Linked DNA regions of Homo sapiens: all the other regions are linked to region 2. The links come from fine-mapping of genetic effects on gene expression. A gene starts in region 2. Each other region holds a variant in brackets. All regions are shown on one strand. Distances are from middle to middle. Region 1 overlaps RANBP10 (RAN binding protein 10). Region 2 holds the start of ACD (ACD shelterin complex subunit and telomerase recruitment factor). Region 3 overlaps CTCF (CCCTC-binding factor).

The links. PIP is the estimated chance that this variant, and not a neighbour inherited with it, causes the effect. A credible set is the group of variants that fine-mapping cannot tell apart.
Region 1: its variant is the best candidate, but not a certain one, in a credible set for the expression of ACD in whole blood (TOPMed, PIP 0.59).
Region 3: its variant is the best candidate, but not a certain one, in a credible set for the expression of ACD in whole blood (TOPMed, PIP 0.52).

What each region holds. Positions count from the first base shown.
Region 1 is chr16:67,793,023-67,801,196 of GRCh38, reverse strand. The region is part of intron 2 of RANBP10 (RAN binding protein 10); the gene reads left to right. Among named protein-coding and RNA genes, the nearest start is that of RANBP10, 9.4 kb to the left of the region's middle. The variant AGT/T (reference allele first, on the strand shown) is at 3,394.
Region 2 is chr16:67,655,705-67,663,859 of GRCh38, reverse strand. It overlaps ACD (ACD shelterin complex subunit and telomerase recruitment factor), which reads left to right and starts at 3,600. Exons shown (of 12, transcript NM_001082486.2): 1 at 3,600-3,738; 2 at 3,815-3,957; 3 at 4,065-4,158; 4 at 4,247-4,323; 5 at 4,441-4,485; 6 at 4,597-4,631; 7 at 4,781-4,932; 8 at 5,044-5,140; 9 at 5,219-5,305; 10 at 5,498-5,874; 11 at 6,007-6,098; 12 at 6,176-6,348. The coding sequence starts at 3,640. The coding sequence ends at 6,254. It overlaps CARMIL2 (capping protein regulator and myosin 1 linker 2), which reads right to left. Exons shown (of 38, transcript NM_001013838.3): 33 at 7,793-7,829; 34 at 7,561-7,632; 35 at 7,215-7,436; 36 at 6,979-7,059; 37 at 6,544-6,621; 38 at 6,291-6,454. The coding sequence ends at 6,342. It overlaps PARD6A (par-6 family cell polarity regulator alpha), which reads right to left and starts at 2,900. Exons shown (of 3, transcript NM_001037281.2): 1 at 2,759-2,900; 2 at 2,183-2,405; 3 at 1,086-1,964. The coding sequence starts at 2,821. The coding sequence ends at 1,213. ENKD1 (enkurin domain containing 1) reads left to right here. Exons shown (of 7, transcript NM_032140.3): 5 at 40-203; 6 at 304-440; 7 at 539-915. The coding sequence ends at 699. RefSeq lists silencers at 2,634-3,113, 3,424-3,533 and an enhancer at 3,687-4,270.
Region 3 is chr16:67,574,437-67,582,610 of GRCh38, reverse strand. All of the region lies in intron 2 of CTCF (CCCTC-binding factor), which reads right to left. Among named protein-coding and RNA genes, the nearest start is that of CTCF, 16 kb to the right of the region's middle. The variant A/G (reference allele first, on the strand shown) is at 5,071.

The DNA.
Region 1 (8,174 bases), 140 kb before region 2:
TTTCTGTAGATTTGAGTACACCTCCTTTGTAAAAGGTATTTATAAACCCAGTTGTTAGTGTCATTGTTCTCCAGAACGTCCTTTGTTTTGACAATATCTTTTGGAGAAGAACACACTAAGCTAGTCTAATAAGGAAAGTTTCATGTCAAGATTTCACAGAATATTTATATATACCTACTATGTTCCAGGCCCTATACTAGGTATAGGGAGAACAGATGTAAAGCCAGCACAGATCAGCTTTGTCCTCAGGAAGCCTGTGGCCCATTCAGTAGAGAGTGGACTGAAAGTCTTTCTGCAAGAGGAGGCAGAGCCTGGGAACAGTTGGGAGGAATGAGTAGGAGTTCCCCAGTAGGCGAGACCTGTTAGACCTATGAGTCTGATGGGTAACTAGCTTGACTTCTGGGTGCTAGGCTTTCTGGGCACTCCTCAAGTATAAGAGAGCTCTGTGGAGTAGGAGGGGCTGTGTTTGAGCTAAGAGCTTGGCACAGACTGATGGGCTTCAACTGCATTTTGCCGAGTCACCAGAGCTGTGAACTCGGGGAGCGGGTCTGGTGGGGTGAGGAGACATCAGAGCACTGCCAGTGGTGCCAGGAGATAAGGGGCATCCAGGTCTGTCTTTCTAGGAAGCGAAGGAGGGCCTGAAGCTGAGGGTCCCTGGGGAGGAGCAATGTCTGCAGGCAGAGTTCATGGACCTGTGGGTGTCCCTGGCTCTTAGTGATGACACATGGAGGGTGTGGCTGGCTAGGCTGACAGATGCTCCAGTGTGACCCTCAAAATAGACTGTAACATCATCCCAGCGGCGGAGGCCTCCTGACATGTGATGGTTGCTTTACCCAAGAGTAGTAGGCCTGGGCTAGAGCACTGGAAGGCATGGAGAGGGGTGGGGGCATTTTCCTCTGTAGCCAGTGTCTGGGCCCAGGCCCAGAGCAGGGGTCTCTGACCACAGCCAGCCTTCCCTTGCTCCTGCAGCTGACTTCCTTTGGCCAGGCAGCAGTGCACTCATTCATTCATTCCAGACACCAGGGCGCAGTACCCATTGTTTTTTTTTTTTGGTTGTTGTTGTTGTTGTTGTTTTTGAAACAGAGTCTCGCTCTGTTGCCAGGCTGGAGTGCAGTGGCACAATCTTGGCTCACTGCAAACCTCCGCCTCCTGGGTTCAAGTGATTCCCCTGCCTCACCCTCCCGAGTAGCTGGGACTACAGGCGTGCACCACCATGCCCAGCTAGTTTTTGTATTTTTAGTAGAGACGGTGTTTCACCATGTTGGCCAGGATGTTCTAGATCTCTTGACCTCATGATCTGCCCTCCTCAGCCTCCCAAAGTGCTAGGATTACAGGTGTGAGCCATCACATCCATTGTTTTGTCCCAGCCTGGGCCCCAGGAGCACAGGCATGAGGCCCCACCGGTGGTGTCGAAGGGTCAGGCCACCGTATGTGTCATATCCAGGGGTGGCCTGGAGGATGGACTGTACCTCAGAGTTTGAGGAAAACATCATAGAATCATATAAGAGGTGATGTGGGCTCTGGAAAGAGGAGTTAGAGTGTTCTAGGTGAACAAAGTGAGAAGCAGATGCTTCAGGCAGAAGAAACAGTGCATAAAAAGACATGGAGCTGGCCGGGCGCAGTGGCTCACACCTGTATTCCCGGCACTTTGGGAGGCCAAGGCGGGCGGATCACGAGGTAAGGAGATCGAGACCATCGTGGCTAACATGGTGAAACCCCGTCTCTACTAAAAATACAAAAAATTAGCCAGGCATGGTGGCGGGCGCCTGTAGTCCCAGCTACTCGGGAGGCTGAGGCAGGAGAATGGCGTGAACCCGGGAGGCCGAGCTTGCAGTGAGCCGAGATCGCGCCACTGCACTCCAGCCTGGGCAACAGAGCGAGACTCTGTCTCAAAAAAAAAAAAAAAAAAAAGAGATGTGGAGCGCAGAACATGAGGTCGGTAGGGCCAGACTGAAAATACCTTGTGTGTGGCCTGGCTCATGCCTGTAATCCCAGTACTTTAGGAGACTGAGGCGGGCAGGTCACTTGAGTTCAGGAGTTCGAGAACAGCCTGGCCAACATGGCGAAACCCCATCTCTCCTAAAAATACAAAAATTAGCCAGGCGCTAATAATAGTGGTGGTGCATGCCTGTAATCCCAGCTACTTGGGAGGCTGAGGCAGGAGAATCACTCGAACCTGGGAGGTGAAGGTTGCAGTGAGCCGAGATCACGCCACTGCTCTCCAGCCTGGGTGACAGAGTGAGACTCTGTCTTAAAAAAATAAAAAAGAAAATACCTTGTATGCTGTGGCCAGGGAGCGTGGGCTGTATCTTGAGGGCAGTAGCAGTGTGGGGGGCTGTGGATCTACCCATGCTTTTGAGAGTGAAGAAAAGAAGAGACTCTGCCAGTCTGGTTCAGCCAGGCTTCTCTGGCCAAGAGCCCTTGTCCAGGGTGGGCCAGTGACTTTAGGTCTTTGGCTCTAGCATGGTTTTCTCATAGCGGTTGTCTTTTTTTCTCTTGGCTGTTCCTTTGGTATGAAGAGATGAAGGGATGGGGTGTGAAAGACTGGTAGCCAGGAGGCTTCTCAGAGGTGAGAGGACTCTGCTTGTGCTGGAGTTCTGGTATTTTGGTTTTGCCAGCTCCCATCTGAAAGACAGTAATGCCCCATGTTTTATACCCAAGCATCTCCTCTGGTGAGCCAGAATCAGCCAAAGTGATTTTCCATGGAGACCTAGAGAGCCACTGTTAATTAAGATATCTTGATTAAGATCTCACCTGCCACATTCCTGGTGTGGAGGACCATCTAAGCTTAGGCCCTTCCAGCTGAGAGACAGCTGTGGCTGGCTTCTCACCCTGGATCCCCTCACCAAGTTCCAGTCTACATGCATTGTACAGTGCTGTTGAGAACTTTGGTGCTCATATGTCATCTGGGGAAGGCGTTGTCCTGCCCGCCCTGATAAGAAGGTGCTGTCCTTGCCCAAGGTAGGTACAGGCCGTGGTTGTGCCCCATTTTCCCTTACTGCCCCCCGGAGTTGATGGTCTTACAGGCAGATGCTGAGCTTTGGGCTGCACTTCTACTCAGGTAACACATTGTGCTATTTGTGGAGACATGGAATGTTTGGGTTCTGGAACACAGGGTAGGATGTTTGGGTTCTGGAACACGGGGTAAGAGAACTGGAGTCTAGATGGTGGCCACTGTTCTTTGCTTTTTTTTTTTTTTTTTTTTTTGAGAGAGGGTCTCTCTCTGTCACTCAGGCTGGAGTGCAGTGGCACAATCATGGCTCACTGCAGCCTCGACCTCCTGAGTTCAAGCAATCTTCCTACCTGAGACTCTTGAGTAGCTGGGACTACAGGTGCATGCCATCATGCCTGGCTAATTTTTATTTTATTTATTTAATTTATTTTTTGAGACAG[AGT/T]GTTGCTCTGTCACCCAGGTTGGAGTCCAGTGGAGTGATCTCGGCTCACTGCAACCTCCGCCTCCCAGGGTTCAAGTGATTCTCATGCCTCAGCCTCCTGAGTAGCTGGGATTACAGGCGTGTGCCATGACACCTGGCTAATTTTGGTATTTTTAGTAGAGACGAGGTTTTGCCATGTTGGCCAGGCTGGTTTTGAACTCCTGACCTCAAATGATCTGCCCACCTCAGCCTCCCAAAGTGCTGGGACTACGGGTGTGAGCCACCATCCCCAGCCCTGGCTAATTTTTAAATTTTTTGTAGAGACAGGGTCTTGCTATATTTCCTAGGCTGGTCTGGAACTCCTACGCTCAATCAATCCTCCTGCCTCAGCCTCCCAAAGTGCTGGGATTACAGGCATGAGCCACCACACCTGGCCTGTGGCCACTTTTCTGGTAGGGCCTCCCTCCTCACTGTATGTTGCTACCCAGGCTCCAACTGTGAGCTGAGAGTGGGGAGCGTCGTTGCCTTCTTTATAGCTGGGGCCTTCTTGGTCAAGGATTAGCTTTTAGAGAAATTCCTAGAATTCACTTCACCTCCTGCCTTTCTGCCTTGATGGTGTTTTTGTTCTCTGGAACTTTTGGTCTTTTCCCTGTATGGGTCATGGTGTAAGGGAGATTCCTTGTTAGAAGAGAAGCAGAAGCTCATCAGGCCAGAGCACAGGAGGATGAACCTAGCAGCCCCATGTGGCAGGCACTGTGTGCCATTCCTATTATGGGACCATTGGGAAGGAATAAAGGGCTCCAGAGTGGGTCTTGTGTGGTCGGGTCAAGTTGGAAAGAAGGGACTCATCAGTGGAAGAGGGATGGATAATTATGTCTAAATGCAAAGATGTTCCTCTGCCTCTCCATTCTGTTCAAAATCCATATAAAATGTCTTTGTAATTCTAGGATCGTTGGTGTTGTGACTTGGTGGTGGAACAGAGCCTAGCCCTTCTGTCATGAAGGGGCCAGAACAAGATGCTCTGTACTATATAGGGAAGTTGGGAGGGGACTGGGGAAGCCCTTGGCACCCCTCTTATGCCATTTCTTGTTACTTAACTCTTGGAATTAGAGATGCTTGGGGTTTCAGGGGAGTTTAGTTTAGGTCAGGGGTGGCAAGTGTGAAGGCCCCAATACCCCACAATACCCTCAGCTTCTATGACCAACATTACTGATTGACAGTAGCACTTGTTCTTGTCCAGACAGAGCCCAGAATTTTTCTCAATGCACAGCACATCAGGCAGCTATAATTTACTGGTCAGAGTTTCATCATGAGATGAAATCTACTAGCCCTCAGGGTGGAGGTGGTTGGAAGATAAGTGGATAGAGGCCCAGATGGTTGAGGGCTCAGCTTATTTCTTCTAAAGGAGAGTCCCAAGGCAGAGCTGAACCAAGAGGAAAGAAACAGAGGGGTTGGATTGCTGAGTAGAACTGATTCTAACCCAGTTTATAAAGCCATGTATCTGAAATTGGCATGGACTTTTTAAAAAAATGGAATGCCCTGTTTTTATAACAACTTGCACCAGTAGTTTGTCAGTAGTTATATTTACTTTTATAAAAATCAAAATAGGCTGTGTGCTGTGGCTCACACCTGTAATCCCAGCGCTTTGGGAGGCCGAGGCAGGCGGATCACAAGGTCAGGAGTTTGAAACCAGCCTGGCCGACATGGCGAAACCCTGTCTCTACTAAAAGTAAAAAATATTAGCTGGGCATGGTGGCAGGCGCCTGTAATCCCAGCTACTCAGGAGGCTGAGTCAGGAGAATCACTTGAACGCGGGAGGTGGAGGTTGCAGTGAGCTGAGACTGTGCCACTGCACTCCAGCCTGGGCAACAGAGTAAGGCTCTGTCTCCAAAAAAAAAAAAAAAAAATCAAAATATTTTTATTTTACGTATAGAAAACATTTGTTTGTTTGTTTGTTTGTTTATTTTTGAGACGGAGTCTCACTCTGTCGCCCAGGCTGGAGTGCAGTGGTGCGATCTCAGCTCACTGCAAGCTCCACTTTCCGGGTTCACGCCACTCTCCTGCCTCAGCCTCCTGAGTAGCTGGGACTACAGGTGCCCGCCACCGCACCTGGCTAATTTTTTGTATTTTTAGTAGAGATGGGGTTTCACCGTGGTCTCGATCTCCTGACCTCGTGATCCACCCGCCTCGGCCTCCCAAAGTGCTGGGATTACAGGTGTGAGCCACCGCGCCCGGCCGAAAACCTTTATTTTTAAAAAATTATTTTATTTGTTTGTTTATTTTGAGACGGAGTTTCACTCTTGTTGCCCAGGCTGGAGTACAATGGCACGATCTTGGCTCACCATAACTTCCGCCTCCCGGGTTCAAGCGATTCTCCTGCCTCAGCCTCCTGAGTAGCTGGGATTACAGGCGTGCACCACCATGCCTGGCTAATTTTGTATTTTTAGTAAAGACAGGGTTTCTCCATGTTGGTCAGGCTGGTCTTGAACTCCCGACCTTAGGTCATCCTCCTACCTCAGCCTCCCAAAGTGCTGGGATTATAGGTGTGGACCACCGCACCCAGCCTATTTATTTTTTTGAGGCGGGGTCTCACTCTGTTGCCCAGGCTGGAGTGCAGTATTGCAATCATGGCTCTGCAACCTCCCCTCCTGCTCAAGAGATTCTCCCACCTCAGCCTCCTGAGTAGCTGGGACTACAGGCACATGCCATCATGCTCAGCTAATTTTTTTTTTTTTAAGTAGAAATGGAATTTCACCACTTGCCCAGGGTGATCTTCCTGGGCTTAAGTGATCTGCCTGTCTTGGCCTCCCGGAGTACTGGGATTACAGGTGTGAGCCACTGTACTTGGCCTTTTTTTGTTGCTGTTTTTTTTTTTTGTTTTTTTTTTTTTTTAATTTGAGGCAGGGTCTCACTCTTGTCACCTAGGCTGGAGTGCAGTGGCAAGATAGTGGCCTGAAATTTTTTTTTTTAACTGTTAAAGAATATGTAGGATTTTTTTTAGGCTGGGCCCAGTGGCTCAAGCCTGTAATCCCAGCACTTTGGGAGGCTGAGGCAGGTGGATCATGAGGTCAGGAGATCAAGACCATCCTGGCTAACACGGTGAAACCCTGTCTCTACTAAAAATACAAAAAAATTAGCTGGCCATGGTGGCACACACCTGTAGTCTCAGCTCTTCGGGAGGCTGAGGCAGGAGAATTGGTTGAACCTGGGAGGCGGAGGTTATAGTGAGCCGAGATCGTGCCACTGCACTCCAGCCTGGGAGACAGAGTGAGACTCCATCTCAAAAAAAAAAAAAAAAAGAATATGTTGGATTTTTTTAATACCTGATAAAGTCTACGTTTAAAAAATACACAGCAGGCCGGGTGTGGTGGCTCGTTTTTTATTTTGAGACGGAGTCTCGCTGTGTCACCCAGGCTGGAGTGCAGCAGCATGACCTCGGCTCACTCCAACCTCCGCCCCCTGAGTTCAAGCAATTCTCCCGCCTCAGCCTCCTGAGAGCTGAGGTTACAGGCATGCACCACCATGCCTGGCTAATTTTTGTATTTCTAGTAGAGATGGGGTTTCGCCATGTTGGCCAGGCTGGTCTCAAACTGCTGATCTCAGGTGATCTGCCCGCCTCGGCCCCTCAAAGTGCTGGGATTACAGGCTTGAGCCACCACCCCGACCAGTCCCAGCACTTTGGAAGGCCAAGACGGAAGGATTGCTTGAGCCTAGGGGTTCAAGACCAGCCTGGACAACATAGTGAGACCCCCACCTCTACGAAACATTTTTAAAAATGAGCGGGGTGTGATAGAATACTTCTGTAGACCTAGCTACTTGGGAGGCTGAGGCAGGAGGATTGCTTGAAACCAGGAGTTTGAGGCTACAGTGAGCTATGATTGAGCTACTGCATTCCAGTGTGGATGAGAGAGTGAGACTCGTCTCAAAAATAAATAAATAAATAAATAAAATAAAAAATAAAAATAAATAGCAGAGGGATAGAGAGATGCAGGTTTAAACAAATGCAGGCTTATGGCCATTATGTGCATAGTACTAGTAGAAGCAAATGCAGAAAACAGAAACCAGAAATTTCCAGTAGAAAGGGGTTTAATATATGGACTTTGATGCTTATAAAATTATCAAGACTTAGAATTTTCATGTAGTGGTGGACTAGGCTACTTAAATAATGTCTCCGATTGAAAATAAGATGGCAGATAAAATATTACAAGCGAGGCTGGGCACGGTGGCTCACGCCTGTAATCCCAGCACTTTGGGAGGCTGAGGTGGGCGGATCACCTGAGGTTAGGAGTTTGAGACCAGCGTGACCAACATGGTGAAACCCTGTCTCTACTAAAAATACAAACATTAGCCAGGCATGGTGGCGTATACCTGTAATCCTAGCTACTCGGGAGGCTGAGGCAGGAGAATTGCTTGAACCTGGGAAGCGGAGGTTGCAATGAGCCGTGGTCGTGCCATTGTGCTCCAGCCAGTCAAACAAGTGAAACTCCATCTAAAAAAAAAAAAAAAAAAAAAAATTACAAGCCAGCCAACTCAAGGCCAGTGTCTGGATGAACACCTGTAACTAGAGTTAAGGGTAGTGTCTGTGTACCAAAGGACATTTGTGGTGTTCACACACTGCTATGCTTGTGTGCTTCAGCTCCGTAATTACACAGGGCCATAGAGGTGGAGGTTAGACCCCTGTGGGGTCTAATGGGAACTCTCTCAAATTAAGCTGGGGCATTAGTGGCTACACCCTCCGGTTACGGGCAGTGCCTTTGGGTTTTTGAATGTGGCAGGCTCTGGAAAGTCAAGGTTTGGTAC
Region 2 (8,155 bases):
ATGCTGTCTGCCCCCACCCACGCTTGCTGTGTCCTGCAGGAGCCAGGCCTGGGGGTGGACTTCATTCGTCACAATGCACGAGCTGCCAAGAGAGCCCCCCGGAGGCATTCCTGCTCACTGCAGGTCCTGGCACAAGTGCTAGAGCAGCAGCGGCAGGCCCAGGAGCACTACAATGCCACGCAGAAGGGCCATGTGCCACATTAGTAGGTCTCACTGCCCGACACTCAGGGTGAAGGACACCTGTGGAGGGTGGGAACCAACCTCTGCCCTCGGGTCATCAACTCTGAGCCTGTGTACCCACAGCTTGTTGGAGCGCAGGGACCTGTGGCGGCGGGAGGCCGAGGCCCGCAAGCAGAGCCAGCCGGACCCTGCCATGCCCCCAGGCCACACGCGCATGCCTGAGAACCAGCGGCTGGAAACACTGACCAAGCTGCTCCAGAGTGAGTACCTGGGCAGGGAGGCTGGAGGGGGGCCCCACTGGGGACCGGGCACCCCTGCCCAACACTCACTGTTCTCACTGTTCCCGGGCCCCCTGTAGGCCAGAGCCAGCTGCTGCGTGAGCTGGTACTGCTGCCTGCTGGGGCAGACTCACTGAGAGCCCAGAGCCACCGTGCTGAGCTGGACCGGAAGCTGGTGCAGGTAGAGGAGGCCATCAAGATCTTTTCTCGGCCCAAAGTCTTCGTGAAGATGGACGACTGAGCCCCTTTGGGGGACAGTGGCAAGGAGCTCCATGCTGAGGATCGCCACATGGCTGCAAAGGACAGGGTTGGACCCAATCCCAGAGCAGAGGTCTGAAGACAGGAGCAGGGGGGTGGCCAGTGTCCCTAGAGCACTCTTCCCAGTCACCAGTGGCTGCAGAAGGGCCACCCTAGCCTTTTAACTGCTTTGTCAAAATTAAACATTTTGTACACAGGATTTGTTTCCATAAGAGCTTTTCTTACCCTAAAAATGCCAAGCCTGGTGGCCCTCCTGCTGCTTGATTGCAGGAAGTTCTCCCCAATGTCACTCCTGCCTTAGTCCAGAGCAGAAGGCAAGCTGGTGAGACCAGGGAGGAGGCTGGAACTGGGACACACAAGGACCATGACTGTATTTGTAGAAAACCTTTAATGTTCCCCAGGCTGAGGGAGCCCTGTGAGCCAGCTAAAAACCCCCACTGTGAAGTCCCTGCCATGTCCCAGCAGTGTGGAGTGGCATGGGGCTTCATCCTGACTGTCAGAGGCTGAAGCCACTACCATCTCCTCGAATGCGACTCCCCCAGCCAGAACTGGCCTGCTCCTGGTCATCCAGGGAGGGCAGAGAGCTGCGGGTACCAGGATGTCGGCAGCCAGGGTGCAGGTCCCAGCACGGGGGCCCCTGAGACAGCCCATTGGAACTGGGAGGCTGGCGGTTCTCAATGACCAGGTCACTGCTGTCATCGTCACTATCAGGCTCAGCAGGCCCAGGCCCTGCAGAGGGAGGACCTGTCAAACGCCCAGATGCCCCTCGCACCACGTTATTGCGCTGGTTGGCGGGCTTGACAGTGACAATGAGGTTATGGCTGTTGGCAACCATCATGTCCGTCACTTGGTCCAAGGTCTTCCCGGCTACTTCAATGCCATTGACCTCGAGGATCTCATCACTGACCGCCAGCAGCCCTGTACTCTCAGCCAGACCCCCACGTACCAGGCGGGAGATGAAGATTCCTGGAACCCGCTCCAGGCCCTGGGGAGCCACACGCACGCTCATGCCATCTCGGATGTAGAAGCCCAGGGGGCGGTCTGAACCATGCTTGTGCAGCCGCACCCGTCGGTGGGTCTCAGGCAGTAGGTCCACGTCTATGACTGAGGAAACCTGGCGGAAATCTTGGGGCAGGCTGATTAGCAAGGGTGGCCGGGTGCGCAGGGGTGCCACTGGCCGCAGCAAGAGCCCTTTCTTGCGCCGCTGCAGAGAGTTGGAGGCAAAAGCCAGGCCGCTGGAGTCAGCTTCTGCTGCAGAAGAGGGGGGATGTTGAGATCAGAGACCTGCTCCCCGACTTGGGCTGTTTACAGGGGGCACTGTAGCTATTTCCTACCACTTAGAGGTCAAGCCAAGGGCAGGGACTGCAGAGGGTGACGCTTGGGTACCCTGGGCATGGACTAACCCTTGTAGACCTGCCCCACAGACACCTTACCCCACAGAGGCTGCCCACTGTACCCCTCCTCACCCCGCTTCTGCACCAGTAGGCGCAGTGGCGGGGGCCCGCTGGCCAGGGCCCGGTGCAGGCTGTCGTCGTTGGTGAGGGGCAGCAGGTCGCCATGAGCATCCGTATAGCCAAGTAGCACGTCCAGGCCCGGGATCTGGTGCACCGCCCGCAGCAACCGCGAGAACTCCTGGAAGCCGCTCACCGAAGCGCGAGGCAGCGCGAAGCGTCGGAACTCGGCGTCAAACTGGAAGTCGGGGTTGGGGGAGAGGAGGAGTCAGGACAGCCTGCGCCCCTTTCTCACCGCAGGCTGGCAGGAATGGGAAAGATGCGGCTGCCGCTTTTGCGGCAGCCTTAAGCCCAGACCTCAGCTCCAGTACCAGGGACGCTGTCCAAGGTCTTCTTACCGCCCTCCAGGTACTCAGGCCACAGAGAGCTGGAGACCAGCAGTGGAGGAAGGAAGACGGATGGGGGAAGGCGAGCAGAAAAGCAGAATGGGACTTGGAGGATAGAGGGAAGAGGTGGCGGGGACCAAGGAGCTGGGAAGGGGAGAAAGAGGGAATTGGGAGCGCCTAGGGCCGAGGCCGGAGGAGCCCTTACTTTGCTCTTCACCTCGACGATGCTATCGGGACTGCGCGCCGGAGTCCTCTGCGGCCGGGCCATGGCGGGGCCGGGCGGGCCGGGGACGGTGCCCCAGGCGGCCCGCCGAGGCGCAGGTGCACAGCCCGGCCGGCCCGCCCGCGCCGCCCCGCCCCTGGCGGTAGCACACGCCCCGCCTTCCCATCCGGAGCGTGACGTCAAGGGGGCAGCGACGCAGAGTGGAACGCGGAGTCCACGTTTCCTAGGAAACGGAGCCGTGGATGGAGAGGAGCCGTCCTCCGCTCTTGCGTCATCACGCTGAGGTCCGCGCGCCCCCGGAGTCTGGGGAGCAGGGCTCCGCCAATCCGAGGGGAGGGCGAAGGAAGTACCATTTATTTAGCGCTGTGTGTGTGCTCTTATTTCCACTGGCCTTACAAGACCGTGCACTGTGTAGATGAGGAAACTGAGTCATAATAAATATGTGCTGAACCGTTCGGGGGTCACACGGTGCTGAAATGGTTTCGAGTCAACTCGCTCGGACGGCACTCGGCCTCAGCCTCCGGCCCTGGAACCCTCTCCAGGGACGGGACCAGCCCTTGTTCTGTTCCCTACCGGTACCACAGGAATCTTGACGAACGGCCCAAATGCCTGGCCGCTGTCAGAGTGACGCCGCGATGAGAGTAAACGGGCCAGCATCCCGTGCACCAGCGGGGTGGACCAGCGGGAGTCTGCACACAGGCCCCCGAGCAGGACGCCCTCGTGCGCAGGCGCGGGGTGTACGTGGGCGGGGCCTCCTCCTCCGGCCCCGCCCAGCGAAGGAGCTTCCTCTTCCGAGGAAAGGCGGGGCCTGGGCGCCCGCGGGAAACCCGGGCCCGTTGCATCCGCTGGGTGTAGCCGTGGGGATGGCAGGTTCGGGGAGGCTGGTCCTACGGCCCTGGATTCGGGAGCTGATTCTGGGGTCAGAGACACCCTCCAGTCCACGAGCCGGGCAGCTGCTTGAGGTGAGCCCCCATTCAGGGCCCGGAGACCGAGGCGGAGGCCCGGGGTGGTGGGATTGACGCCGCTCGCCGCCGTCAGGTACTACAGGACGCCGAGGCCGCGGTCGCGGGCCCATCCCACGCCCCTGATACGTCCGACGTCGGGGCCACGCTGCTTGTGTCTGACGGGACCCACAGTGTCCGATGCCTGGTGACGCGGGAGGCCCTGGACACCTCGGACTGGTGAGAGGCCCCGCGCGGCTCTGGAGGTCGGAGTCCGGCAGGAGAGCGCGAGGTGGGCGGGCCTTGTGTTCAGGTGGGCCCGGCAGTGAGGATCCTGCTTGTTGCAGGGAGGAGAAGGAGTTCGGCTTCCGCGGGACAGAGGGCCGGCTGCTGCTGCTGCAGGACTGCGGGGTTCATGTCCAGGTCGCTGAGGGCGGCGCGGTGAGTGGTGAGACTGCCTTGGGCGGGTTACCGGGCATGACTCTTCGTGACGATTCTGAGACCCCCCCTTCCCCCCGAACTCCTCCAGCCCGCAGAGTTCTATCTCCAGGTGGACCGCTTCAGCCTGCTGCCCACGGAGCAGCCCCGGCTACGGGTGCCTGGTTGGTAAGTGATGCCTCCGCCCTCCAGCAGCTCTCCCCACCCCAGCCTGGCCGGCGCTGGCAGACGCCTATGGGGTAGGAGGGCTTGGGCCCCCATTAACTACCCTTCTCTTTTTCTTAGCAACCAAGACTTAGATGTTCAGAAAAAGCTCTATGACTGCCTTGAGTGAGTCTGGGGTTGGGCTCGGGGGCCACGTGTTGTTTGGTGAGGGGATGGTGTATCTAGGTAGACAGGCCTCAGCATGGTTCCTGAGTCCTGGCCACTCTCTTCCTGTAGGGAGCACCTTTCAGAGTCCACCTCGTCCAATGCAGGTACTGTAGAGCTTGACCAGTGATCCTAACACGCTGTGCAGTGATCTCTCCAGCCTTAACCTTATGCTTCCTCAATAAGCTGTCTTCCCCCTCACCCTCCTGGTCCTCCCCTTTAAGCCTTGACTCATCCCATGGTCCCCTGTCCCCAGGCCTATCACTGTCCCAGCTTCTGGATGAAATGCGGGAGGACCAGGAGCATCAGGGGGCACTCGTGTGCCTGGCTGAAAGCTGCCTGACACTGGAGGGCCCTTGCACAGCACCCCCTGTCACCCACTGGGCTGCCTCACGATGCAAGGCCACGGTCAGTCTGGGGATTTGCTTGGGAGATGTCAGGGTGAGGAGTTGGGCAAGGGTCATATCCCACAGGACATGAGAGTAAACGGGCCTGTCCTACAGAGTTCATGTCCCACAGGGAGAAGCTGTGTACACTGTCCCCAGCTCAATGCTGTGCATCTCTGAGAATGACCAGCTAATTCTGAGCTCTCTAGGCCCCTGTCAGAGGACACAGGGTAAGGGGGACTGGAGAGGTTGGGGGGATACCTGGGGCCCAGGTCCACAGTGCTGATAAGACTTCCTGAACCCCCCAGGCCCTGAGCTGCCCCCACCAGACCCGGCTCTGCAGGACCTATCTCTGACCCTCATAGCCTCTCCTCCTTCCTCACCCAGTTCCTCAGGTGAGGTGATGCACAGGTCACAGGCACTCACTGCCGCCTGTCAGTCAGGTTCCCGGGCTGCGCAGGATGCTGTGAAAGGTGCACGGTGGGTGGGGGATGAACACGGTCCCTGCAGTCCTGTCTGAGCTCGCAGGCCACTCAGCTGCCCTGAGCGGAGAGGGCTGTGCCTACAATAAGTCCCCTCCTCCTCAGGAACCCCGGCCTTACCCGGCCACATGTCATCCGAGGAAAGTGGTACCAGCATCAGCCTTCTGCCTGCCCTGTCCTTGGCTGCTCCAGACCCAGGGCAGAGAAGCAGCTCCCAGCCCTCACCAGCCATCTGCTCAGCCCCTGCCACCCTGACCCCCAGGTCCCCACACGCCAGCCGTACCCCCAGCTCCCCACTCCAGAGCTGCACTCCCAGTCTCTCACCCCGTAGCCATGTCCCCAGTCCACACCAGGCTCTTGTGACCAGGCCCCAGAAACCTAGCCTGGAGTTCAAGGAGTTTGTAGGGTTGCCCTGCAAGAATCGGCCGCCTTTTCCCAGGACCGGAGCTACCAGGGGAGCCCAGGAGCCCTGCTCTGTCTGGGTGAGCATAGCCCCTCTGCAGCTGGAGGGTAGAACAAGGAAGGCCTGAGGTAGAGCTGGGAGGGAGCATGGGTAGCCTTGGATGGGGTTGGGGTCCTTGTTAGCTCTTCCCCAGACACCATACCCCTTTCAGGAACCCCCAAAGAGGCATCGTGATGGTTCTGCCTTCCAGTATGAGTATGAGCCACCCTGCACGTCCCTCTGTGCTCGGGTCCAAGCTGTCAGGTGAGTGCCTGGGTCTGCCCCAACTCTTGGTCACTAGTCCCAGGCTCCATTGACCTGCAGCGGTGGTTTCTTTCCAGGCTTCCTCCCCAGCTCATGGCCTGGGCCTTGCACTTTCTGATGGATGCACAGCCAGGGTCTGAGCCAACTCCGATGTGAGACGTCACGCAGGACAGATACCGCTCCACACTCTGCTTCCTTTGAGTTTTTTAATAAAATAATCTCATGCGGCAGGAGAGGAGAGGATCAGGGATTGGGGCCGCCGCCTCTTTGGTCTGTGGCTGGGGAGGGTGGGCTCCGCTCAGGGCTGGAGGGCTCTGTGGGCTGTGGGGGCAGAGGCTCGGTTCCAAGGCCAGATCCTGTGAGGGGAGGGAGGGAGAGAGAGGAAGGGTCAGGGCTGGGCTAAGCAGTCCTGCCACCCTCCCAGCTGGCCTGGACCCCCTCTTACCTAGGCTTGGGGATGGAGGTGCCTCGAGTTTTGGCCTGCGTTTGAGGACGGGGGAGCGCTGCAGCCTCAGGGGCCGTTCTAAGGGACACAGAAAGGCTTGGGGTGGGTTGCTAAGGCTTGGGGTCTGTCCATCCCCTGCCCCTCTCTTCCACCTCCAGTGCACATAAGCATGCACTCACACACACTGCTGCCTTCAGAGCATCCCCCGTCCCTGCGTCCTCACCCCTGGCAGAGGCTGCTCTTCGGGAAGTGGAGCCAGTGCTAGTTGGAAGGGCTTGCTGTCAAACCCTTGCACCTGGTCTTCTGGCTCCCTGATTTCTTGAGACCTCACACACTGGTGGCTCCCTCCAAGGACCAAAGCTATGAAGGGAGCCCCAGAAGCCCACCCTCCCACATCTCCTGCATTCAAGCACACGTGGAGGTGTCTCCCCTCACCAGCAGGGGCCTGGAGCTGGTCCTCATGCACAGACACTGCTCGCCGCCCTGCCGAGAGAGGCCTCGGCCTCAGCTGGCCATCTGAGGGAGGCCAGGGAATCAGGGGTATTCCAACAGCTGCCCCCACTCCAGCCCTTGCCTCCCACCCTCAGGGTCCTTAGAGGAGCTGAGTTCCCAGCAGGAACTCCTCCAGCCCCGAGGCCAGGATTGGGGTGGGGAATCAGGTGCCTGCCTACCTTCATTTCTGGGGCCCAAGCAAGGGTCCTCTGGGAGGCCCAGGCTGTCTGGGGAGGGGCTGGTTCTGCAGGGACTTGGGCTTTGACCAGGGGAGGGAGGGCCTGGACCATCCTGTTGGCCCCAACCACGGCTCCTGAGCTCCGCATTCAACTGCTGCCCCAGTGTCTTCCAGGTGGCAGACTCAGGCCCCTGGCTCCCTGGGCCAGGTCTGCAGGAAGGGTCTGTAGGGAGAAAGGTGTCAGCCAAGACCTGGTCAGGCATTGGCGATAGGTCTGAACAACAGTCTGACCCAACTCCTGCCTGTCCCTGCTCCCACTACCAACACACACAGTGGCCCTCACTCACCAGCAGACACAGAGTGGGTGCGGGACTTGATCGAGATGGGAGGGGCCTCCGTGGAACTGTCCATAATGTCACCTGCAAGGCGGAGCTGGGGACTCAGGTACCAGACCTTGGAGGTGAGGGGAAGAAAAACCTGGCCTCTCCCCTTCCTCCCCAAGGAGAGCAAGTGCCTTGGGGGCTGTCTATAAGGACACCTCCTGGCAAATGTACTGCCACACCCCAGGGTCCCACTTACCATCTGAGCCAGCTTTCTTGATCTCGCCATCTTTGCTCTGCAGGAAACAGGGCAATCAGATTCCAGCCCTGCCCGCTCCCCACACCCTAGCCTTTTGTTCGTTCTTGTTCTTATAATCCTGCCACTGAATGCCCACCATGGGCTGGACAAGAACATGGCAAACCCAGTACAGCCCTCTTAGAACTCTTTGCACACTTGAATATTTCTAAATTCAGGCCGACTTCATGTTTTTTGTTTGTTTTTGTTTTTTGTTTTTTAAGATATTGAATGGATGGTATGGAGGGCTGGGGTTCTTTGGGACTCTAATGAGAGAGACATTAGCAGGGTGGCCCACAGAGGAGAGTCAGGGAAGAACCATGGGCA
Region 3 (8,174 bases), 81 kb after region 2:
AGTGATTCTTGTGCCTGAGCCTCCCAAGTAGCTGGGATTACAGGCACCCACCACCATATTCGGCTGATTTTTATATTTTTAGTAGAGACCGAGTTTCATCATGTCGCCCAAGCTGGTCTTAAACTCCTGAACTCAAGCGATCCGTTCGCCTCAGCCTCACAAAGTACTGGGATTACAGGCATGAGCCACCCTGCCTGGCCAATGCTCGTATTTTAGAAATAATTCAATTAATGAGGAATAGGTAGAAACAACATACTAGAGGCAAAAAGTCAGGGCAAACAAGGACTGCTATGCCCAAAGGAACAGTTCAGAAAACTAAAGCATGCACACATGCCACTTAACATCCAACAACAAAGTTCCTACTAATTTGAAGTAACAGAAGATTTTTTTTTTTTTTTTTGAGACGGAGTCTTGCTCTGTGGCCCAGGCTGGAGTGCAGTGGCACGATCTCGGCTCACTGCAAGCTCCGTTCATGCCATTCTCCTGCCTCAGCCTCCCCAGTAGCTGGGACTACAGGTGCCCACCACCACACCCAGCTAATTTTTTGTTTTAGTAGAGACGGGGTTTCACCGTATTAGCCAGGATGGTCTCCATCTCCTGACCTCGTGATCCGCCAGCCTCGGCCTCCCAAAGTGCTGGGATTACAGGCATGAGCCACTGCACCCGGCCAACAAAAGATATCTAACAGAGGCTGTGTGAGGTGGCTCACACCTGTAACCCCAGCACTTTCGGACGCTGAGGCAGGTGGATCAACATCAGCCCAGTCAACATGACAAAACGCTGTCTCCACTAAAAACACAAAAATTAGCGCTGTGTGCTATGGCTCACGTCTGTAATCCCAACACTTTGGGAGGCCGAGGTGGGTGGATCACCTGAGGTCAGGAGTTCTAGACCAGCCTGGCCAACGTGATAAAACCTCATCTCTACTAAAAGTACATGATTAGCCGGGTGTGGTGGTGCACGACTGTAATCCCATCTACTCCGGAGGCTAACGAAGGAGAATCGCTTGAACCTGGGAGGCGGAGGTTGTAGCGAGCCAAGATCGTGCCACCACACTCCAGACTGGACAACAGAGGAAGACTCTGTCTGAAAAAGATAAATAAAATAAAAATAAAATAAAATAAGCCAGGCCTAGTGGAGCATGTCTGTAATCCCAGCTACTTGGGAGGCTAAGGCACAAGAATCACTTGACCCCAGGAGGCAGAGGTAGCAGTGAGCCTAGATCATGCCACTGCACTCCAGCACGGGAGACGGAGTGAGACTGTCTCAAAAAAAAAAAAAAGAAAAAGATCATCTAACAGGAAAAACGTTCACAACACGCAGCAAGGTTACAAAGGAGGATGCAGAATAGGATTCCAACCTAATTAAAAATAAGTAAGGCCGGGCCAGGTGCAGTGGCTCACGCCTGTAATCCCAGCACTCTGGGAGGCCGAGGCAGGTGGATCAGGAGGTCAGCAGATCGAGACCATCCTGGCTAACACGGTGAAACCCCGTCTCTACTAAAAACACAAAAAATTAGCTGGGTGCGGTGGCGGGTGCCTGTAGTCCCAGCTTCTCGGGAGGCTGAGGCAGGAGAATGGCGTGAACCCGGGAGGTGGAGCTTGCAGTGAGCCAAGATAGCGCCACTGCACTCCCGCGTGGGCGAAAGAGCGAGATTCCATCTCAAAAATAAATAAATAAATAAAAAATAAGTAAATCCTGGTGCGGTGGCTCACGCCTGTAATCCCAGCACTTTGGGAGGCCGACGTGGGTGGATCACCTGAGGTCAGGAGTTCTAGACCAGCCTGGCCAACATGGTGAATCCCTGTCTCTACTAAAAAAAAAAAAAAAAAAAAAAATTTGGCCAGGCGTTGGGGCAGGTGCCTCTACTAAAAGTACAAAATTAGCCGAGTGTGGTGGTGCACGCCTGTAATCCCAGCTACTCTGGAGGCCGAGGCAGGAGAATCACTTGAACCCGGGAAGCAGAGGCTGCAGTGAGCTGAGATTGAGCCACTGCACTCCAGCCTGGTGGACAAGAGCGAGACTTCGTCTCAAAAATAATAAATAAATAAATAAATACATAAATAAATAAAATAAAAATAAAATACATAAATAATTAAAAAACTAAGCTGGGCATGGTGGCTCACACCTGTAATCCCAACACCTTGGATGGCCTGGGAGGAGGGGATTGCTTGAGGCCAGGAGTTGAAGGCCAGCCTGGGCAACACAGTAAGACCCCATCTTTACAAAAAAAATTAGCTGGGCCTGGTGATACGCACCTACACTCCTAGCTACTCAGGAGCTTGAGGCCAGATGATCACTTAAGGCCAGGAGTTCAAGGTTATAGTGAGCTATGATCACACCACAGCACTCTAGCCTGGGCAACAGAGCGAGAGTCTGTCTCTAAATTAATTTAAAATAATCATTATAATTTAACAAACTAGACAAACAGCAATCCCAGTTATCCCACCTTAAGTCAGGACAGCATTACATCTTGCATGGACCAATGCAATGGCCTTCTAAACAGTTTCCCTGCTTCCCCTCTTGCTCCATTACCCACCATTTTTCACACAGCGGCCACGGATTTCTAAAATGTAAATCCATTATCAGCAAGAAGACTTCCCTTCTGAAACCACCATGCTGAAAACTCTTAAAGTCCAAACTCTTTCACATGGCCTACCAAGTGCTTCAGGGCCCTATCAGCAGATCTGCATCCAGCCTGACATACTCGCCTCTAATCACACTGAACTTCTTTCAGTAGCCAGAACATTCTAGGTCTTTCCTTTCCTGCCTCTGGGCCTTTGTACATGCCATTCCCTCTTCTAGGAATATACAAGCAATTCTCTATGTTTACACTAGTACACGAGCCTAAAGATGTGTATATAAGAAGGCTATCTACTACTAGGGTATTTTTCTCTAATGGCAAAAGATTAAAAACAAGCTGGGCGTGGTGGCTCATACCTGTAATCCCAGCACTTCAGGAAGCCTGGGCAGTTGGGAGGCCAGGGCAATTGGGAGGCCGAGGCAGGTGGATCACCTGAGGTCAGGAGTTTGAGACCAGCCTGGCCAACATGACGAAACCCTGTATCTACTAAAAATACAAAAATTAGCCGGGCATGGTGGCATGTGCCCATAATCCCAGCTACTCGGGAGGCTGAGACAAGAGAATCGCTTAAACCTGAGAAGCAAGGATTGCAGTGAGCCGAGATCACGGCACTGCACTCCAGCCTAGGTGACAGAGCAGCAAGACTCCGTCTCAAATAAAAAAAAAACAAAAAAAAACAAAGATTGAAAACAACTCAAACGTCTAGAACAACGTGTATAGTAAGCTACTATTTGTGCTTTATTTTTTATTTTTATTATTTATTTATTTATTTTGAGACGGAGTTTCACTCTTGTTGCCCAGGCTGGAGTGCAATGGCGATCTCGGCTCACTGCAACCTCCACCTCCCAGGTTCAAGCGATTCTCCTGCCTCAGCCTCCCGAGTAGCTGAGATTACAGGCGTGTGCCACCACACTCCGCTAATTTTTGTATTTTTAGTAGAGATGGGGTTTCACCATGTTGGTCAGGCTGGTCTTGAACTCCTGACCTCAGGTGATCCACGCACCTTGGCCTCCCAAAGTGCTGGGATTACAGGCGTGAGCCACCACGCCCGGCCTTTTATTTTTATTTATTTATTTTTGAGACGAAGTCTTGCTCTTGTCCCCCAGGCTGGAGTGCAATGGTGCAATCTCGGCTCACTGCAACCTCCACTTCCCGGGTTGAAGCGATTCTCCTGCCTCAGCCACCTGAGTAGCTGAGATTACAGGCGCCTGCCACCACGCCCAGCTAATTTTTGTATTTTTAGTAGAGATGGGGTTTCACCATGTTGGCCAGGCTGGTCTCGAATTCCTGACCTCAGGTGATCCGCCTGCCTCGGCCTCCCAAAATGCTGAGATTACAGGCGTGAGACACCATGCCCGGCCTATTTGTGCTTTTTTAAAAAGATACATAAACTTGGCCAGGCACATTGGCTCATGCTTGTAATCACAGCAATTTGGGAGGCCGAGGTGGGTGGAACACTTGAGGCCAGGAGTTCGAGACCAGCCTGGCCAACACGGTGAAATCCCATCTCTACTAAAACTACAAAAATTCGCTGGGCATGGCCGCACATGTGTGTAATCTCAGCTACTTGGGAGGCTGAGGCACAAGAATCACTTCAACTCAGGAGGTAGAGGTTGCAGTGAGCCAAGATCACGTGTCTCACTCCAGCCTGGGCAACAGAGTGAAAACCCTGTCTCAAAAAAAAAAAAAAAAAAAAAAAAAGATACATAAACTCATACATTTGAATATACGCAGAATTTTCTTTGGATGGATACATCAGAAATTGGTATTTATTGCCTCTGAGGAAGAAAAATGAGAGATCAGAGGCAAGACTGAGGATTACTTTTCATTATTAACATTTTGCACTGTTTGAAGTATTTCCCCCTCATGTTCTTACATTAAATGTGGTGGTTACAGAAAATTTCCATAGCACAATTATATTTTGTTTAAAAAGTTGTATTATATGTACATGCCTGTTAATAAAAGTGCAAAGTCAACACACCAGACTATTAATAGTCTTCAGCTCTGGGAAAACAAAGTTAAGGGATTCTTTAGGTTCTAATGTAATTCTACAATCATTAGACTCTTCCAAAGAATGAAACTAAACATTACTTGGGTAATATTTAAACAAAGTTTAAGACCAAATTTAAGTGAGGATCACTGCAAGAACTGCCTCTGCAACCTCAATCCCCTCTAACAGCTGGGCAGATGCAGGAGCTTCCTCCTGCCTTACTCTCCTCCTGGCTGCACTTCTATAACTGTTCCAGTGGCCCTCTCGATTCCACTCAAGAAGTCTAGACTGGCTGGGAGCGGTGGCTCACGCCTGTAATCCCAGCACTTTGGGAGGCCGAGGTGGACGGATCACAAGGTCAGGAGATGATGAGACCATCCTGGCTAACACAGTGAAATCCCGTCTCTACTAAAAAAAATACAAAAAAAAAAATTAGGCAGGCGTGGTGGCAGGCGCCTGTAGTCCCAGCTACTCAGGAGGCTGAGGCGGGGGAATG[A/G]CATGAACCCGGGAGGCGGAGCTTGCAGTGAGCCAATATCGCACCACTGCACTCCAGCCTGGGCAACAGAGCGAGACTCCATCTCAAAAAATAAAAAAAAAAAAAGAAGTCTAGACATTACTGCCAAGTAAACTAGGCAAAAACACCTTTTATCATTTCATTATCCTTTTTTTTTTTTTTTTTGAGACAGAGCCTCCCAGGTTCACACCATTCTCCCACCTCAACCTCCTCAAGTAGCTGGGACTACAGGCGCCCGCCACCATGCCTGGCTAATTTTTGTATTTTTAGTAGAAACGGGGTTTCACTGTGTTAGCCAGGATGGTGTCGATCTCCTGACCTCGTGATCCGCCCACCTCGGCCTCCCGAAGTGCTGGGATTACAGGTGTGAGCCACCACGCCCGGCCCATTTCATTACCTTTATCAGAAAGTTTCAGTGCTACTTCCTACTGTACTGCATTCCCTTTTCCTTTAAAAATTATGCAATACAGGCAACAGGAGAAAGCTTAAAGAAACCTACCTATAGGTTTTATACACACATTCTGGCTTATATCCAAATTCGCAGTCCCCTCCCCAATATATACATATACTTACTCTCACGAGATCATACCATACATATTGTTTGATAATCTGCTTTCTTTGTACTTTGTTTCAAATATCTTGCCATTTCAACATATTTTTTATACATAATGGCTACACAACATTCTATTATAAGGCCAGGCACGGTGGCTCACGCCTGTAATCCCAGCACTTTCGGAGGCAGAGGCAGGCGGATTACGAGGTCAGGAGATCCAGACCATCCTGGCTAACATGGTGAAACCCCATCTCTACTAAAAACACAAAAAATTAGCGGTTCTAGCTACTCAGGAGGCTGAGGCAAGAGAATGGTGTGAAGCCGGGAGGCGGAGTTTGCAGTGAGCAGAGATCGTGCCACTGCACTCCAGCCTAGGTGACAGAGGGAGACACCATCTCAAAAAAAAAAAAAAAAAAAAACATTCTATTATAGGGATGTATCATAATTTAACCAGTCACCTATTGTTAAATATTTTTATAGCCAGATTTTGGTAATTCTGCTTTAATCTAAGAAAAGAAAAAAAGTATTTGCATTAAAAAAAATTACACAAACTATACAAAACCAACAAAAAGTGACCCCCAAACCAAACTACCCTCACACTACTAGTTTTGACTGATGATTTCCACGTCTGTTTAGTCTTTTTTCCCTAGGCATTCATTCATCCAAATAATTACTTATTGAGCTTCTGCTATACGCCAGGTTTTAGTTTGGGATTTTCTTTACTTTTATTCCATAATAATTAACTTTTTGGTATTATGCTATTAAAAAACCTCTCTCATAAGCATTTTGCTGGTTAACAGCCTTCCGTTTTTTTTTTTTTTTTTTTTTTAAGACAGGGTCTCACTCTGTCACCCAGGCTAGAGTGCATGCAGCCTTAACCTCCTGGGCTCAGGTGATCCTCCCATCTCAGCCTCCCAAGTAGCTGAGACTACAGGTGTGCACCACCACACCTGGCTACATTTTTTTTTTTTTTTTTTTTTACAGACAAGGTCTCACTAAGTTGCCCAGGCTGACATTCATCTTTTTAAATGGGTTAGGGTTTTATATCCCTTGCAACATGCAACGAGACCTTGTTTTCTTACCCACTTCTCTACTGCTCAACAGATTTTCTGATAAATCTAACCCATTTTCCTATGGCACAATATTTCCGTTTAGTTCATTAACATTTGTATTATCTGGTGGTCATCGAAGTTCAGTTTAATGCAAAATATATACAATAACCAACTTGGCTGGGCGCGGTGGCTCACGCTTGTAATCCCAGCACTTTGGGAGGCCAAGGTGGGCGGATCACCTGAGGTCAGGAGTTTGAGACCAGCCCAGCCAATATGGTGAAACCCCGTCTCTACTAAAAATACAAAAATTAGCTAGACATGGTGGCGCACCTGTAGTCCTAGCTATTCAGGAGGCTGAGGCAGGAGAATCGGTTGAACCCGGGAAGCAGAGGCTGCAGTGAGCCGAGATTGCACCACTGCACTCCAGCCTGGCGACAGAGCGAGACTCCATCTCTCAAAAAAAAAGAGGAAAGGGAAGCCCAAGGAAGTCACCTCTAATAGAACTGCCCTGCCCAAGGCCATATAGCTATTAAGCTGCATGGCCAGGACTTGGAGTCCTAATGGGATTAAAATAAAATTCATCCTCCCAAAGTGCTGGGATTATAAGCATGAGCCACCACGCCCAGCCTCAGAAAACTTAATTCTTACTTACTTATTTGTTTATTGAGACAGGGTCTTACTCTGTCACCCAGGCTGAATGAAATGCAGTGGTGGGACCACGGCTCATTGCAACCTCAACCTTCTCAGCTCAGACGATCCTCCGGCCTCAGCCTCCTGAATAGCTAGGACTACAGGCATGCAACACAACGCGTGACTAAAGAAAATGTAATTCTTTTTTTTTCCTCTATCCACAAGGACATATGGAAAAAATGTAATTCTTAAATGCCACTTATGTTAAGAGCAATATGTTAATAACAATACTTAGTAATTGTAAAACACACAGTTAAGAATAGATGCTTTTGGCTGGGCGCAGTGGCTCACGCCTGTAATCCCAGCACTTTGGGAGGCCGAGGCAGGCAGATCAAGAGGTCAGGAGATCAAGACCATCCTGGCTGACAAGGTGAAACTCTGTCTCTGCTAAAAATACAAAAATTAGCTGGGTGTGGTGGTGGGCGCATGTAGTCTCAGCTACTTGGGAGGCCGAGGCAGGAGAATGGTGTGAACCTGGGATGCGGAGCTTGCAGTGAGCCAAGATTGCACCACTGCACTTCAGCCTGGGCAACAGAGCAAGACTCCATCTCAAAAAAAAAAAAAAAAAAAAAAAAAAGATGCTTTTGGCTGGGCGTGGTGGTTCATGCCTGTAATCCCAGCACTTTGGGAGGCCGAACTGGGTGGATCACCTGAGGTCAGGAGTTTGAGACCAGCCTGGCCAACATGGCAAAACCCCATCTCTACTAAAAATACCAAAATTAGCCAGGCGTGGGGGTGAACGCCTGTAATCCCAGCTACTCGGGAGACTGAGGCAGGAGAACTGCTTGAAC